Linked DNA regions of Homo sapiens: region 1 is linked to region 2. Evidence: fine-mapped expression QTL. Tissue or cell type: whole blood. Region 2 holds a variant in brackets; the other region holds the start of a gene. All regions are shown on one strand. Distances are between the middles of the regions.

Region 1 (7,301 bases), 170 kb after region 2:
TCTCCAATCCCAGCGTGGCCCACGTCTCCAATCCCAGCGTGGCTCAAGCCTGCAATCCCAGCGTGGCTCACACCTGCAATCCCAGCGTGGCTCACGCCTGCAATCCCAGCGTGGCTCACGCCTGCAATCCCAGCGTGGCTCACGCCTGCAATCCCAGCATGGCTCATGCCTGCAGTCCCAGCGTGGCTCACACCTGTAATCCCATGCCTGCAATCCCAGCACTGTGGGAGGCCAAGGCTGGGTTGGGTGGGGGTGGGGGGATCAGGAGTTTGAGACCATCCTGGGCAATATAGTGAGACCCCGTTTCTACAGATAAAAAAATTTTAAGGCCAGGTGCAGTGGCTTATGCCTGTAATCCCAACACTTTGGGAGGCTGAGGCAGGAGGATCACTTGAGCCCAGGAATTCGAGACCAACCTAGGCAACATGGCGAAACCCCATCTCTCAAAAAAATTAGCCAGGTGTGGTGGTGCATGTCTGCAGTCCCAGCTACTCAGGAGGCTGAGGTGGGAGGATCCCTTGAGCCCAGGAGATGGAGGATGCAGTAAGCCAAGATCCCACCGCTGCACTCCAGGTTGGGCAACAGAGTGAGACCTTGTCTCAAAAGATAATAGTAAAAATTGCTGGGTGTGGTGGCTCATGCCTGTAATCCCAGCACTTTGGGAGGCTGAGGTGGGCAGATCATGAGGTCAGGAGATCGAGACCATCCTGGCTAACACGGTGAAACCCCGTCTCTACTAAAAACAAAATACAAAAAATTAGCTGGGCGTGGTGGCAGGTGCCTGTAGTCCCAGCTACTTGGGAGGCTGAGGCAGGAGAATTGTGTGAACCCGGGGGGTGGAGCTTGCAGTGAGCCGAGATCGCGCCACTGCACTCCAGCCTGGGCAACAGAGCAAGACTCTGTCTCAAAAAAATAATAATAATAGTAACAATTTTAAAAAGCTGGGCATGGTGGCGTGCATCTATAATGCCAGCTACTTGGGGGGTCAAGGTGGGGGGATTGCTTGAGCCCAGGAGTTCAGGGTTACAGTGAGCTCTGACCAGTGATGCAGTGCTCAGGGTTTGAAGAGAGCGTGCACACAAACCGCTAGAGATAAACTCAAAGCACCTGGAAGCTACACCCGCCCCCCCTTCCCCCCGAGAATGGCAGATACTAGAAGGTGGATAGGGCTGAGAGCTGGAAAGAAGACAGGGATGGTGAGAGCATGGACTGGCCGAGCACTTCTGGAAAGCATGGAGAGGCACCCATGCGAAAGCAGAAAGTGCATCTGGAAAACAAAGGCAGCCACCCAGCAGCCACACTCGGGTCGCTCGGAGGGGCTGGAACTCACTGCACTGGGTTATCTGGGAGTGACTGAGTTGTCGGGGAGGGGGGGTGACTTGGTTATGTGAGGGGTGGCTGGGTTCTCTGGGGTGATGGTTATCTGGGGGTGACTGGGTTATACGGGATGGGTTATCTGAGGGGTGCCTCGGTTATCTAGGAGATGACTGGTTTATCTGGTTACCTGAAGGGTGACTTGGTTATTTGGGGATGATGATTTTATCTGGGATGACTGAGTTATCTGGGGGTGACTGAGTTATCGGGTGAATAGGTTATGTGAGAGGTGACTGGGTTATTTGGGGTGACTGGTTTATCTGGCAGTGACTGGGTTATCTGGGGTGAATAGGTTATGTGAGGGGTGCCCGGGTTATTTGGGGTGATTGGTTTATCTGGCAGTGACTGGGTTATCTGGGGTGAATAGGTTATGTGAGGGGTGCCCGGGTTATTTGGGGTGATTGTTTATCTGGCAGTGACTGGGTTATCTGGGGTGAAAGGTTATGTGAGAGGTGACTGGGTTATTTGGGAGGTGACTGGTTTATCTGGCAGTGACTGGGTTATCTGGGTTGAATAGGTTATGTGAGAGGTGACTGGGTTATTTGGGAGGTGACTGGTTTATCTGGCAGTGACTGGGTTATCTGGGGTGAATAGGTTATGTGAGAGGTGACTGGGTTATTTGGGAGGTGACTGGTTTATCTGGCAGTGACTGAGTTATCGGGTGAATAGGTTATGTGAGAGGTGACCGGGTTATTTGGGAGGTGACTGGTTTATCTGGCAGTGACTGGGTTATCTGGGGTGAATAGATTATGTGAGGGGTGCCCGGGTTATTTGGGGTGATTGGTTTATCTGGCAGTGACTGGGTTATCTGGGGTGAATAGGTTATGTGAGGGGTGCCCGGGTTATTTGGGAGGTGACTGGTTTATCTGGCAGTGACTGGGTTATCTGGGGTGAATAGATTATGTGAGGGGTGCCTGGGTTATTTGGGGTGATTGGTTTATCTGGCAGTGACTGGGTTATCTGGGGTGAATAGGTTATGTGAGAGGTGACTGGGTTATTTGGGAGGTGACTGGTTTATCTGGCAGTGACTGGGTTATCTGGTAGGGGTGACTGTTATCGGGGGGTGAGTTGGTTTATCTGGGGTGCCTGGGTTGTCAGGGTGACTGGGTTATCTGCCAGGGCTGATTTATCTGGAGGTGCCTGGGTTATTTGGGGTGACTGGGTTTATCTGGGGTGACTGGGTGGTTGGGTGCTGGGATTGGATGTAGCTGAACTGCCTGCCTCAGGATGAAGTTTGCTGGAAGTCAGGGGCTGGCATCCCTCAGAAAACATGCAAGGATCTTTAAAAACGCAGACGGCGTGAAAGCTCAAAGCAGACACATCCCCTACGCAGCCCAGGGAGGCAGGGGGACCTCCTGGTTTGCTCACAGCAGTGGCCGGGCCTGTGAACACGGGCTCAAAATACATTTTTGGAATGAATTATTGAATGAACTTAAAACTCCAATCACACTAAATCTTTTATATGAAAGATCGTGCACGTTCGTCCTGGTATAGTGGGAAGGGGACCTGCACGAGGGAAAACGGCTGCCTCGAAGAGGCAGGGACCACGCGGGATGCGCCCGCGTCTGAAGCCAGACCCCCGGCTCCCCGAGGGAGAACAGGACGGAGGGCGGGGCTGTGGGGAGCGGAGGGAATGAAGGTCAGGGAGGCGGCGGGGACCCCCTGAGCTGGCACAGGCCCCGGGAACGTCTGTGGAACAGGGGACGGGATGGGGCGTGGGGGAAGGAGGTGCGGGCTGCAGGAGCGGGGGTGATGGGGTCACTCACGGCGGCGGGACTGGGGGTACTGGGTGGGGGGGTCGGGTGGGGCCGGGGCTGCAGTGGAGGGTGTGGGGCGGGGAGATGCCCTCATTGCCCGCGCACTGGCGCCCGAGCCCAGAGAAGAGAGCGCCGGCTTCCCCGCCAGTGGCCGCAGCACCCCAGGAGCGCGGGAACCTCCGGACCCACAGCGGGGCGCGGCCGGGGCAGGTGGGGGGCCCAGGCGAGGAAGCCCCCTCTGCGCCCTGGGCTGGGCGAAGGGCCCTGCGATGCGACGGGGGCAGCCCCAGCGCGCGCCCAGTCCTCACGTCGCCACCGAGCGGCGCCCCCGCCCCAGCCCGGAGCCCCGCAGGGCCGCCCCCACCCCTGCCCACCCTCCCGCGGGCCGGGGCAGCCCCCCGCCAGCCACCCCGCGTTCCCAGGAAGAGGGACCGGTCATTACTCATTCATGTCCTTTCATTTCATTTCAATATTTTCTGCAAAGTCATCGCCCGCGCCGCATCTGCGTGGCGGGGGGCGGGGTGGGGCGGAGCCACGCCGCGGAGTCGCCGCAGGTAAACAGCCCCCTCCCCGCGGCGGGAGCGGGGCCGCCGGCCCCAGGCAGGGACAGCAGCCGCCGCCCGCGCTCCGGGCCGGGATCCCGCCGCCGCCCCCGCCGGAGGCACGCGCCAGGGCGGGGGCCGGGCTGCGGCGGAGGCGGGCGGCTCCGGTGCCCCCCGCCGCCGCCCCGGCCCGGCCCGCCCGCCCCCTGACCCCGGGGGCGGCGGCGGAGCGCCCCCCAAACCCCGCTGCGGGCTCCGCGCCCGGCCAGCCCCGCACCCGCCGCGCGCCTCCGGCTACTCCCATCCCCCGGAGCCCCCCGCTCGGTCCCGGCGTCCCCTGCCACCCTCTCCCGCGGCCCGCGGCCCCGTCCCCGTCCCGCGCCCCCACGCTCCCCGATCCCCGCCCCCGCGCCGCGCGTCCCCTCCCGCCCGCGCCCCCCTCGCCGGGCCCCGCCCCGCGCCCCCCGCCCCGCCCGCGCCCCCCGCCGGGCCGCGCCCCCCGCCCCCCATGCACCACCTCCTGGAGCAGTCGGCGGACATGGCGACCGCGCTGCTGGCGGGAGAGAAGCTGCGGGAGCTGATCCTGCCGGGCGCGCAGGACGACAAGGCGGGCGCGCTGGCCGCGCTGCTTCTGCAGCTGAAGCTGGAGCTGCCGTTCGACCGGGTGGTCACCATCGGCACCGTGCTGGTGCCCATCCTGCTGGTCACCCTGGTCTTCACCAAGAACTTCGCAGGTGAGGCCGGCGGCCGGGGCGCGGGGCGCGGGCAGAGGGGGCGTCCGCAGGTGTCCGGGAGCTGGCGCTTCCCGCGTCCCCGGCGGCTCCGTCCAGCCGCGCCCACCGTGGCCTGGCTGCGTCCGCGGCGTCCCAGGCACCTTCCACAGCCGCCCCCATCCTAGCAGGTGTCGCTGGTCGCACAGACCCCTCGTCTCTATTTTATTGTTGTTCTTCCTTCCATTCGTCCGCCCATGGCCGCGGGTGGGACTAGGCCTGTCTGGACCCAGGGGTCCCAAATGTCATGAGACACGGGGTCTGGTTTGGAGAATGTCACAAGCAGCGCCTGAGGGGATGCAGGGTGGCCAGGTGGGGACCAGGAAAGGCCGGGATGGGTGTTGACAGCAGAGAGCTGATTACAGGGGCTGGTGGAGCTGCCGGGCAGGGTTCCCAGGCTGGACTTGGGTGGAAGGAGGGCAGAGAGAGTCTCTGAGAGGCCCAGGCCCTCCACCCCTCAGGCAGGGCGAGGCCTCTCCGGGTGCACTGGGGGCCTCCGAAGGTTTGAAGCAGGGGGGCTAGCATGGGGCAGGGCCACGTGTCAGAGCAGGGAGCCTGGAGCTCCTGCAGGGAGATGGGGGCTGGACCAGGGCAGGGACCCGCGCTGGTTAGATCAGGACCTGTGGGGGCACTTGAAGCCACCCAGGCGAGGCAGGAAGATGGACAGAGCAGCCAGCCTGCCTGTGAGCCTCTGCGGGGTGGGGTCCTGGTGCCTCTGCCCTCCCCAAGGAGTGGGGCGAGACAGGTGGAGCCGAGAACTTCCTCCCCTGGGGTCTGGGCCAAGGCAAGGGGGATCAGGGTCTCCTGGCCTGTGTGGCCCAGAGGTACTAGTCTGCAGCGGGGAGGGGTGTTGGGACCCTGGGGCCCTCTCTTCTGCAGCCTCCAAACCTCAGCAGACCCTGCCTCAGCACTGGCGCTTCCCAAATCTCCCAGATGCCTTGCCTTAAGGAGTCCCCGTGGCCTGGAGACACCAGGCCTGAGGGTGGACATTGGCCAGGCTGTCTGATCCCACCCAGGGGTGGAGGAGGCCTCTGCTGGTCTCCTCTTCGACACTGGAGGCCAGACCCCGGGGATTAGAGGACCCCTGGGGTGGGCACACAGCACACTCTGCAGAGCAGGGAGCCCAGGCGTGCGGTGGGGCCTTGGGGCAGGCCCAGCATGTCCAGACACCACGTGTGTTCTCTGTGTTTGTAGCAACCAAGTACCGCAAACTAGGCAGTTTCAAACAGCAGACATTTATCTCTCATGGTTCCGGAGGCCAAAAGTCCAAAATCGAGGTGTCGGCAGGGCCCTGCTCCCTCCCACAGCTCTAGGAAAGGGACATTCCAGCCTCTTCAGCCTCTGGTGCTGCCGGCAATCCTTGGGCGCCTTGGCTCGTGGCCGTGCCACCAGTCTCTGCCTCTGTCTTCTCATGGGCTTCTTCCCTCCCTGTCTGTGTCCAAATTTCCTTTTTTTTTGAGACAGAGTCTTGGTATGTCGCCCAGGCTGGAGTGCGGTGGTGCGATCTGCAACCTCCACCTCTCGGGCTCAGGTGTTCTTCCTGCCTCAGCCCCGAGCCCCCAGTAGCAGGGACCACAGGCATCCCACACCACACCCAGCTAATTTTTGTGCCATGTTCCCCAGGCTGGTCTCAAACTCCTGGGCTCAAGTGATCCTCCCATCTCAGCTTCCCAAAGTGCTGGGACTACAGGCGTGAGCCACTGTGCCCTTTTCTCTTCTTCACCACCCCCCCGCTTTTTTTATTTTTATTTTTTGAGACAAAGTCTCGCTCTGTCACCCAGGCTGGAGTGCAGTGGTGCGATGTCGGCTCACTGCGACCTTTGCCTCCCGGGTTCAAGCGATTCTCCTGCTTCAGCTTCCCAAGTAGCTGGGACTACAGGCACCCGCCACCACGCCTGGCTCATTTTTTTTTTTTTTTTTTTGAGACAGAGTCTCGCTCTGTCACCCAGGCTGGAGTATAGTGGCGCGATCTCTGCTCACTGCAAGCTTCGCCTCCTGGGTTCACACCATTCTCCTGCCTCAGCCTCCCAAGTAGCTGGGACTACAGGCGCCCGCCACCATGCCCGGCTAATTTTTTGTATTTTTAGTAGAGACGGGGTTTTGCCATGTTGGCCAGGATGGTCTCGATCTCCTGACCTCGTGATCCGCCCACCTTGGCCTCCCAAAGTGCTGGGATTACAGGCGTTGAGCCACCGTGCCTGACCCATTTTTTGTATTTTTAGTAGAGACGGGGTTTTGCCATGTTGGCCAGGCTGGTCTCGATCTCCTGATCTCAGGTGATCCGCCCGCCTCGGCCTCCCAAATTGCTGGGATTACAGGCATGAGCCACCGCACCCGGCCCAACTTTCTTCTTTAAAGCGGAAAGGAAGCGAGCGCTCTGCCCCCGAGCACCCTCCCAGGAGCCTATGGGCTGGTTCCTCTTTTTGGCTTCATCATCCTTGGAGGGCCGAGCGCAGCCCCTGATGCCGCAGGGCAGGGTTGGGCCTGAGGGCCCGTGTGGCCAGCTGCTGTCTCAGGATGCAGTACCCTCGAAGGTTGGGGGCCAAGTCCCAGGGTCTCCAAGGTGGGCTGGGGAAGGGTCTCGGCCCCCCTCAGCCTGCAGAGAGTGGAGAATGTAGCAGGTGCGCAGCCACCGCCAGGATTAGCTTCCTGTGGCTGCTGGAACAAACCTACAAGTCAGAAGCCAGATGCGAGTCTCATGGGGCTAAAACGAAGGTGTCAGCAGGGCTGGCTCCAAGGGGGAACCCACTTTCTGCCTTCTCCGGCCTCCAGAGGCCTCCACATTCCTGGCCTTGCAGCCCTTCCTGCGTCCTCAGAGCCGGCTGCGTGGCGTTCTCTCTCCCAGCCCCACTTCTGTC
Region 2 (7,301 bases):
CAGCCTGGGCCCAGACTGCGGTGGGAGTGCATCTGCAGATGGGGTGCGACCACCGCTGGGACAGGCTGGGCATGTGGTCCTGCACAGCACTCAGGTGAGACGATGTCCAGGCTCCAGAGGGTGGCTCAGCGGGGAAGCCGGAGAGCCTACGTGACCCACACGAGAAGTCTTCAAGGGCCGACCCCATGGCCCACTGCACAGGCCACTGCTGGGCACCCCTGGCTGGGACCTGGATGTGCCACTTGGAATGTCTGAGAACCGCACATCCCAGCAGGTGGCCCCCAGGCAGGTGGCCTCTGAGACCACAGGAAGTGACTGACCGTTGCTGGGTGAGTGGGGCTGGGATCTGGGGAAGCTGAGACCCTCTGGAGGGGTCCGAGTGGGGCGGGTGCCCCAGTGAAGCTCAGCACCCAAGGATGCACAGACAGGAGAGGTGGACTCCAGCCAGTGTGGGGTGCCCTGGGCAGAAACTGGGGTGATCCTTGACCACCTCGGGCCTGATCAGCTACAGGAAGGGTGGGGTTGCACCCTGCACCCCAGAGCACTGGGGAAGCTCCAGGCAGCTGCCAGGGCCTTGTCTTCAGGGCCAGGGACAGTGGCCATGACCATGAATTGTCTGAGAGGGAGGCTGGGGTCCAGCACCTGGGCCATCCGGGGAAGGGGTAGCCCACCCAGCTCCTGCTGTTCCCAGGGGACTCAGGACAGGGCTGAAGGTCTTTTATGTGACCCAGAGCCCCTGAGGGCCCCATGGAGCTGTAGCCCCAGGACAGCCAGCAGGTGCCTAGGCCCCACAGTCAGGTGAGAACACCCCACACTCTCGGAGGGGGGCCTGGCTCAGCTGTCCGAGGCTGTGCCTTGGCCTCCTGCCCCCCAGCAATGTGTCCCTGGCACCTACTTGTTCGTGAGGAGATTCCTGGCCTCAGGCTGCCGTCCCATGTGGGTGGGTGCAGCTGGAGAGAGACGTAGGGGTGGTACTGGCTGGGACACCACCTCCCAGCCCTGCCCCCACTGTGCGAGGCTGAGACATGTGAGGGAAGGGGAGGGGGCTGCCCAGTCCTGGGGTGCCAGTGGCTGTGGACAGCAGCCTTCCATCTGCAGGGAGGCTCAGCAGACAAGTGAAGGAGGAGCCCACCCTGGCCCCAAGAGGAGTGTGTATGACCCCCAGATCCCCCCACCTGAGCCAGGCCCGGTCCTCCTGCTGCCTCCAGGCCTGTCCCTGGGGCCGTGGACTTGCCCAGCATAGCATGGGCACTCCACAGTGGCAGGTGCCAGCCCCAGGGACACCTGACCAGCAGGTGGCCATTGCCCCTTTAGTCTGTGATCTGCTGGAGGTGACCTTTGCTAGGGAGGGGGACCTAGGCTTGGCCAAAAAGTCTTGCTGGGAGAAGGGGGAGCTGAAGGTCTGCGGGTACTGCCACGGCCCTGGGCATGTCCTGTGGGCAGCAGGCTGCCCTGAAATGGCTGTGGCTCAGCTGAGCTGAGGAGACATTCCAGAGACCCCTGCCTGGCCCACTGGTGCTCCCTGGAAAGGGTCTCCAGAGGCCCTGGGTGCCAGGCTGTCCTATCCACCCCCTCCCACCCCTCCCACCTCTGTGGCTGTTGCGGTTCACCCCACCCGAAGCTAGGCAAGCTCTTTTGCTCACAGGGAGGGGTGCAGGTAGGAGTGCCAGCTCTGACCCTTCCTGGACTCCAAGGCAGAGCCACGCTCCTGACCACACCCAGGCCACATGTGCTTAGTTCTGTCCACTGGGCAGAGTCCTGTCCTGATGTACCCTGGGTCCTGGGAGCCTGGGCCTCAGTGGCTGGTGGGCAAAGGGACATCCCAAGTCACTGGCGGTTGGAACCAGAGCTCTGATCAGGGAAGGTGGACCCCCAGGGAGGAGGAGGCAAGGCCAGTGACAGTGAGACCAGGGTGGGCGTGCGGGAGGCCCAGCGGTGTGTGGTGGAGGGAAATGCAAGGCTGGAGGGCAGTGCTGGGCACAGACCTGGGTTTGGCGCAGAAGCCTGACCTGACTCAGGGCCGGATGGTCTCCCCGTTTCCCCCACCCAGTCTCCTGTTCAGTGCACGCCACGCCCAGCCTGCCGTGGGAGGCCTAGGTCTAGTCCTCGGCCTCCTGCGGCCCCTGAGAGATGGGCACCCACTGGAGCGGAGGTTGCAGAGCTGCTGGGGGACGGAGAAGTGTACATCGGTCCTCCAGCCCTGCAGGCATAAGGCAGCTCCGTCAACATGGCCTCCTGCTTCCCCCGGGGATGGGGGATGGGAAGGGGGGGTGTGAACTGAGGTCCTGCAGTGGAGGAGATGGCTAGGGGCTGGGCACAGCAGCGACACCCACCTGGATGCAGATGCCTGGGGCACAGGCCTCCTCCCTGGGAAGGTCTAGGAAGGCAAAAGCAGGGGCGGCTGCCAGGTCACCCTGGGTGGGGGAGGGCAGGTCACAGGCAATGGGAGGAAGGGTGGATCAGGCTAAACACTGTCCTTCTCCCACATCCTCTCAGCACCCACAAAGCAGGGCTGGCCTCCCATCCCTCCCTGCCAGGTAGACTAGACCCTGGGTGGGCTCAGGGCCCGGGTGGGGCAGAGACCACCACAGGGAAGTGATGGGGTCCTGCCGCCACCACCCCCACCTCCCCAGGATGGAGCCCCACTCTCTCGGCTCACTGAGGCTGAAGGGAGCGGGCTGGCCTGGAGTGTGCGTTGGCAGGCAGGGAGCTGTGACTTCCTCCTGTGACACAGGTGCACCTGGAAGTGGGCGGGGCTGGACGAGAAGAAGGTGACCCGGAGGTGGCCCTTTGTGGGCGAAGGCTGGATGGTCATTTTCCAGGCTGTGGGGAGTGAAGGGTGAGACCCCCATCCGGCCCAGCACCCCACCGCCTCCCTTCCTTCCCCAGTGGGCCTGGCGCCTGCCCACT[G/C]TACCTCCCCCACACTGGCTTGGCACCGTTATTCCACCTCCCTGACCAGCACAGAGTGATATAAAGGATGTTCTGTGCTGCGTCCACATTGCGTAGGCCTCATGGAGAACTTACTTGGGAAGCGACGCTGTTCGAAAGGGCACCGCACCCAGGACCCCCAACTGGTAGAGAACTGCAAAGTGGGGTGAGGGGTGCAGGAGGGTGGAGTGTGTGTGAGGCAGGGGCAGGGACAGGGGCAGGGACAGGGACAGGCTGGGTCAGCTTCAGGGTGCTCTGGGCCCAGTTCTCCTCCTTAGGCCCTTAGCTCACCCACTGTCAGACCAGGAGGGGGCTCTGAGGGACGCCTGGGAGGCTAGGCTCCAGGGCTGGGCAAGGGCCCCTGCCCCACTCCCCGCCCTGATGCCCCCTGGCCCCTCCCCAAATAGGGCACTGGCAGGCTGTGGCAGCCCCTCACCTTCAGGCAGAGCTGGGGCTGGGTGTCCACCAGCGGGTACTGCACCTGAGGAGGGCTGGGGTCAGGCTGTGGCATCCATGCCCACCCCCATCCCTGCTGAGCAGGCACTCACTCTGCGATGCACCAGCTGGCTGGATTGCTGCAGCTTACGGCAGCCGGCCCCCGGCCCCGGGCGCCAGCACAGGCTCACATGGCCACTCACAGGGCAGGCGGGCTCCCAGCTCAGTGTCTGGCTCTCCGGGTGGTAGTAGACCGTGTCCCACAGCACCTCCAGTGCCTCAGTGTCTGCAGGAACCCTCCCCGAAACACAGGTCAGTTGGGCCCTACCCTGGCTGCCAGGCCCATGGGGTCTAGCACCCACTCAAGTGACCACTGGGCCAGGGTCCAGCGCAGTCCTATGGGTCTCTGAGCCCTGGCTCAAGGCTGTGCACGTGTGTGCATGGGTGCATGTGCATGTGTGTGGATATGCATGTGCATGGGTGCGTGCGCCTATGTGTGTGCCTGTGCATGGGTGTCATGGGTATGGGTGTGCGTGAGTGTGCCTGCCTGTGCATGGGTGTGTGTATGTGTACGTGTTTGCATGGGTGTCATGGGTATGGGTGTGCGTGAGTGTGCCTGCCTGTGCATGGGTGTCATGGGTATGGGTGTGCGTGAGTGTGCCTGCCTGTGCATGGGTGTGTGTGCATGTGTACGTGTTTGCATGTGTATGGGTGTGTATGTGCATGGGTGCGTGTGCATGGGTGCGTGTCCATGGGTGTGGGTGTGCGTATGCATGGGTGTGCCTGCCTGCGCGTGGGTGTGCGTGTGCATGTGTATGTGTGTGCATGTGTATGGGCGTGTATGTTCATGGGTGTCTGTGCATGTGTGTGTGCATGTGTATGGGCGTGTATGTTCATGGGTGTCTGTGCATGTGTATGGGCGTGTATGTTCGTGGGTGTCTGTGCATGTGTGTGTGTGCAGCGTCGCTGAGCAGAACCGAGAGCAGGACGTCTCTCTTGTGCCCCTCAGACAGCCCCTCTTGACAGGCTTGGTTTTCCCAGGTGAGCTGGTCCACGTGCGCACACATGTACATTGCACACACACACACACTTATGCACATCCACATCTGTGCGCAGGTTCCCTTGGTGACAAGCCCTTCCGAGCAGGCTCAGGGATTTAGGCTGGGCCTGCTCCTTATCTCATCCCCCCACGTCAGTCCTCATGGTGGAGTCAGACTGGCCGCAGCCATTCCCACCCTTCCGCCCGTTGGCATCGCAGGACACTTGCCGTTTTCAAAGGGGCAGATCTGGATCCGCACCGCGTCAGGGGTCGCAGACCAGCCCTGTGGGAGGGGCTGGGGTCAGCGCAGCCCACCCATCCCTGTGCTCCCCTCACCCGCCCCAAGTCCAGGCCACACCTCCACCGACCTCCAGGCACAGGCACGGCAGCTCCTGGCTGTAGGGCAGGAAGACGGCCTGGGAGACGCTGTTGGCGGTCACCTGCAACCCAGAAAGGGCGGCTGAGGGGCCGCGCGGGAGGGCGGGGGTGGTCTGGGGTGGGCGGGACCTGCACCGAACGGGGCGGGAGCGGGGACGGGAGGTGGGTGGGGCCTAGGCCTGGCCGGGGGCGGGGCGCGGAGGTGGGTGGGGCCCAGGCCTGGCCGGGGGCGGGGCGCGGAGGTGGGTGGGGCCTAGGCCTGGCCGGGGGCGGGGCGCGGGGGGTGGGCGGGGCGCGGGGTGGGCGGGGCCTAAGGCTGACCGGGGCCCGGGGCGCGGAGGTGGGCGGGGCCTAAGGCTGACCGGGGCCCGGGGCGCGGGCGCTCACTCGCACAGGGGCGCCGGCGTCCTCGCAGGTGAACCGCTTGAGGCAGAGCCGCAGGTAGTAGTCGGGGCTCCCGGAGGCCCTGGGCACTTGCACCAGAATCGCCTTGCGCCTCCGGTCCACCCAGTAGCTGAGCTTCCCCGCTGCAGGAGGCGGCAAGTCGGGGCCGCGCTGGGACCAGCGGTCACCGACGCGGGGCTCTGTCTGTCCCGAGAGCCCCGACGTGGTGGCTCCTGCTGGGTTCAGACGTTTGGGAGTCGCCCGCCCGAGGGCCCCTCAGGATTTCCCAAATGGGGCAGAAGACCCCGGGGAGAGGAAGCCTGTCGCAGCGTCTGAGGGTCTTCGCAGGGGCGTCGAAGGAGGGAACTCACCGAGGCAGTCGGGCACGCTCCTCCCCACGTCCTCCTCTCCGCAGTCTGCAAACCGCAGAGGCAATGGCGGGGTGCGGGCTGCCCTGCCCTCAGGGGCCATCCTCCTCCACCCGCCCCCCATCCACGCGCTGTGCCTCTGTCATGCGACCTCGAATTAAGCCAGAGGTCTTGCGGGGATCTGTCCAGTGTGAGGGCCAGGCCCCTGCCCTGGGCAAGTCCCACCCCAAGCCAGGCCCTGGAGGCTGAACGGTAGCTGTGCTCAGGGGGCCCTGGGGACCCTACCTTCCACGAGGTGCCTCTGGTCCAGCTGGACCCCGCAGAAATGAGGGATGGTCCTCAGGGTGACATAGAGGTGCTGGGCCACGCTCACCGCAAAGCAGCCAAAGTGCACTTGGAGCTGAGCAGGTGCAGGTGTGAGCTGCGTGGACTCAGAGGCACTGCCCACCCCACCCGGCCAGCTCCACTTGCATGGCTGGAGCTTAGAGCCAGGGATGGCGCCCAGGAGGAGTGGCGCCCAGTCTTCGGGACTTGGGTGGCAGAGCCCTGCCTTGGCCTCACCTGCTGCCCCCCCTGCTGCCGGTGGGAGGCCCTGGCCACCCACACGCTCTGACACTGCGTCTCCTGGGTGTCCAGGCTCATGGCACAGGCCTCCAGGCCCCGCAGGCGCTCTGGGTGGAGGAAGGACCCGGCAGGGTGCATCAGAGCAGGGCCGCCCCTGGCTCCGGACGGGGCCGTGGGACCCTGTTCCTCTGCCTTCTCTCTGTGAAGTGCGGTTAGCAGCCCCCCTCCCTCACCAGGCCGCCCAAGGTTTGATGGGAATAAAAGGCACCTGGGCCCACTGCTGGACCTGCGGGTGTTAACTCCCACCCTCGAGGCCACCTCTCACCATGCAGGGTGATGGAGGCGCGTACACGCAGGAGCATCGCGCAGCCGTCAGAGGGGACACACTGCATGGCAGTGGAGGACGTCAGGGCCTCCAGGACTGACCTGGACATGGACACGGGGCGTGGCCGGCAGAAGCTGTTAAAAATGTTCCCTGGGGAGGGAGAAGGAGCGTGAGGCCTCGAGTTCCCTGGTGCTCGGAAAGGCTTTGTGGGTGGTTCTGGGAAGGGGGAGAGAGCCCTGGGGCTGCAGTCTTTGCCAGGGGGTCTTTACTATCTTGCCCCAGGCCAACTGGAGAGCAAGTCCCCTGGCATGTGGTGAGCCCCCACCCCGAGACACACTCCAAAATGTCTGTGGGACCCCAGGAGTGGGCCTGGGTCAGGGGGGCAGGCTGCACACCAGTCTGCATCAGAGCAGTGGAAGCTGCTGCCCCACCTGGCCAGCAAGGGGGCAGGAAGCCCACCACGACTTGCTGGCAAGCTCTGTCGACTCTGCTCAAAGACGAACAGCAGAAAAGGCCAACACGGGCTTGCTGGGACACCTGGGAGGCGACCCCAAGGTTGCTGCAGCCCAGGCCTCTGTCCACAGGGAAGCGGCCGCATCCTCACAGGGAGGACTTGCCCCCAGGGCCTTCTGCTCTGAGACCAAACGCCATTCTGAGCAGCCTCACCAGACGTGGGCAGTGTGGAGCTGGGTATCATTTTGGGCACTGGGGGCTTTGCTCAGCCAGGTTTGCAGGTGGGACTCAGAGCAGAACTTCACGTGAGCCACAGAGCCTGGCAACCCAGCTGTTCCACAGGAGGACTGCCACCCTCTTTATAGAAGGCATGGCCACCGAGGCGTGGGACCCACATGCTGTTGGTGAGACAGTGCGGCTGCTGCTC

What was found. PIP is the estimated chance that this variant, and not a neighbour inherited with it, causes the effect.
Region 1: it holds the start of PANX2, and the variant in region 2 is fine-mapped to the expression of PANX2 in whole blood (INTERVAL, PIP above 0.99).

The regions. Positions count from the first base shown.
Region 1 is chr22:50,166,550-50,173,850 of GRCh38, forward strand. It overlaps PANX2 (pannexin 2), which reads left to right and starts at 4,182. Exons shown (of 3, transcript NM_052839.4): 1 at 4,182-4,407. The coding sequence starts at 4,182. RefSeq lists a silencer at 3,356-3,415 and an enhancer at 5,015-5,707.
Region 2 is chr22:49,994,661-50,001,961 of GRCh38, forward strand. IL17REL (interleukin 17 receptor E like) reads right to left here. Exons shown (of 15, transcript NM_001371417.1): 3 at 6,422-6,571; 4 at 6,094-6,203; 5 at 5,818-5,932; 6 at 5,536-5,580; 7 at 5,168-5,307; 8 at 4,771-4,842; 9 at 4,631-4,685; 10 at 3,477-3,649; 11 at 3,365-3,409; 12 at 3,025-3,082; 13 at 2,660-2,823; 14 at 2,334-2,414; 15 at 1-2,200. The coding sequence ends at 2,015. Among named protein-coding and RNA genes, the nearest start is that of IL17REL, 14 kb to the right of the region's middle. RefSeq lists enhancers at 4,741-5,699, 5,700-6,659, 6,660-7,301. The variant G/C (reference allele first, on the strand shown) is at 2,911.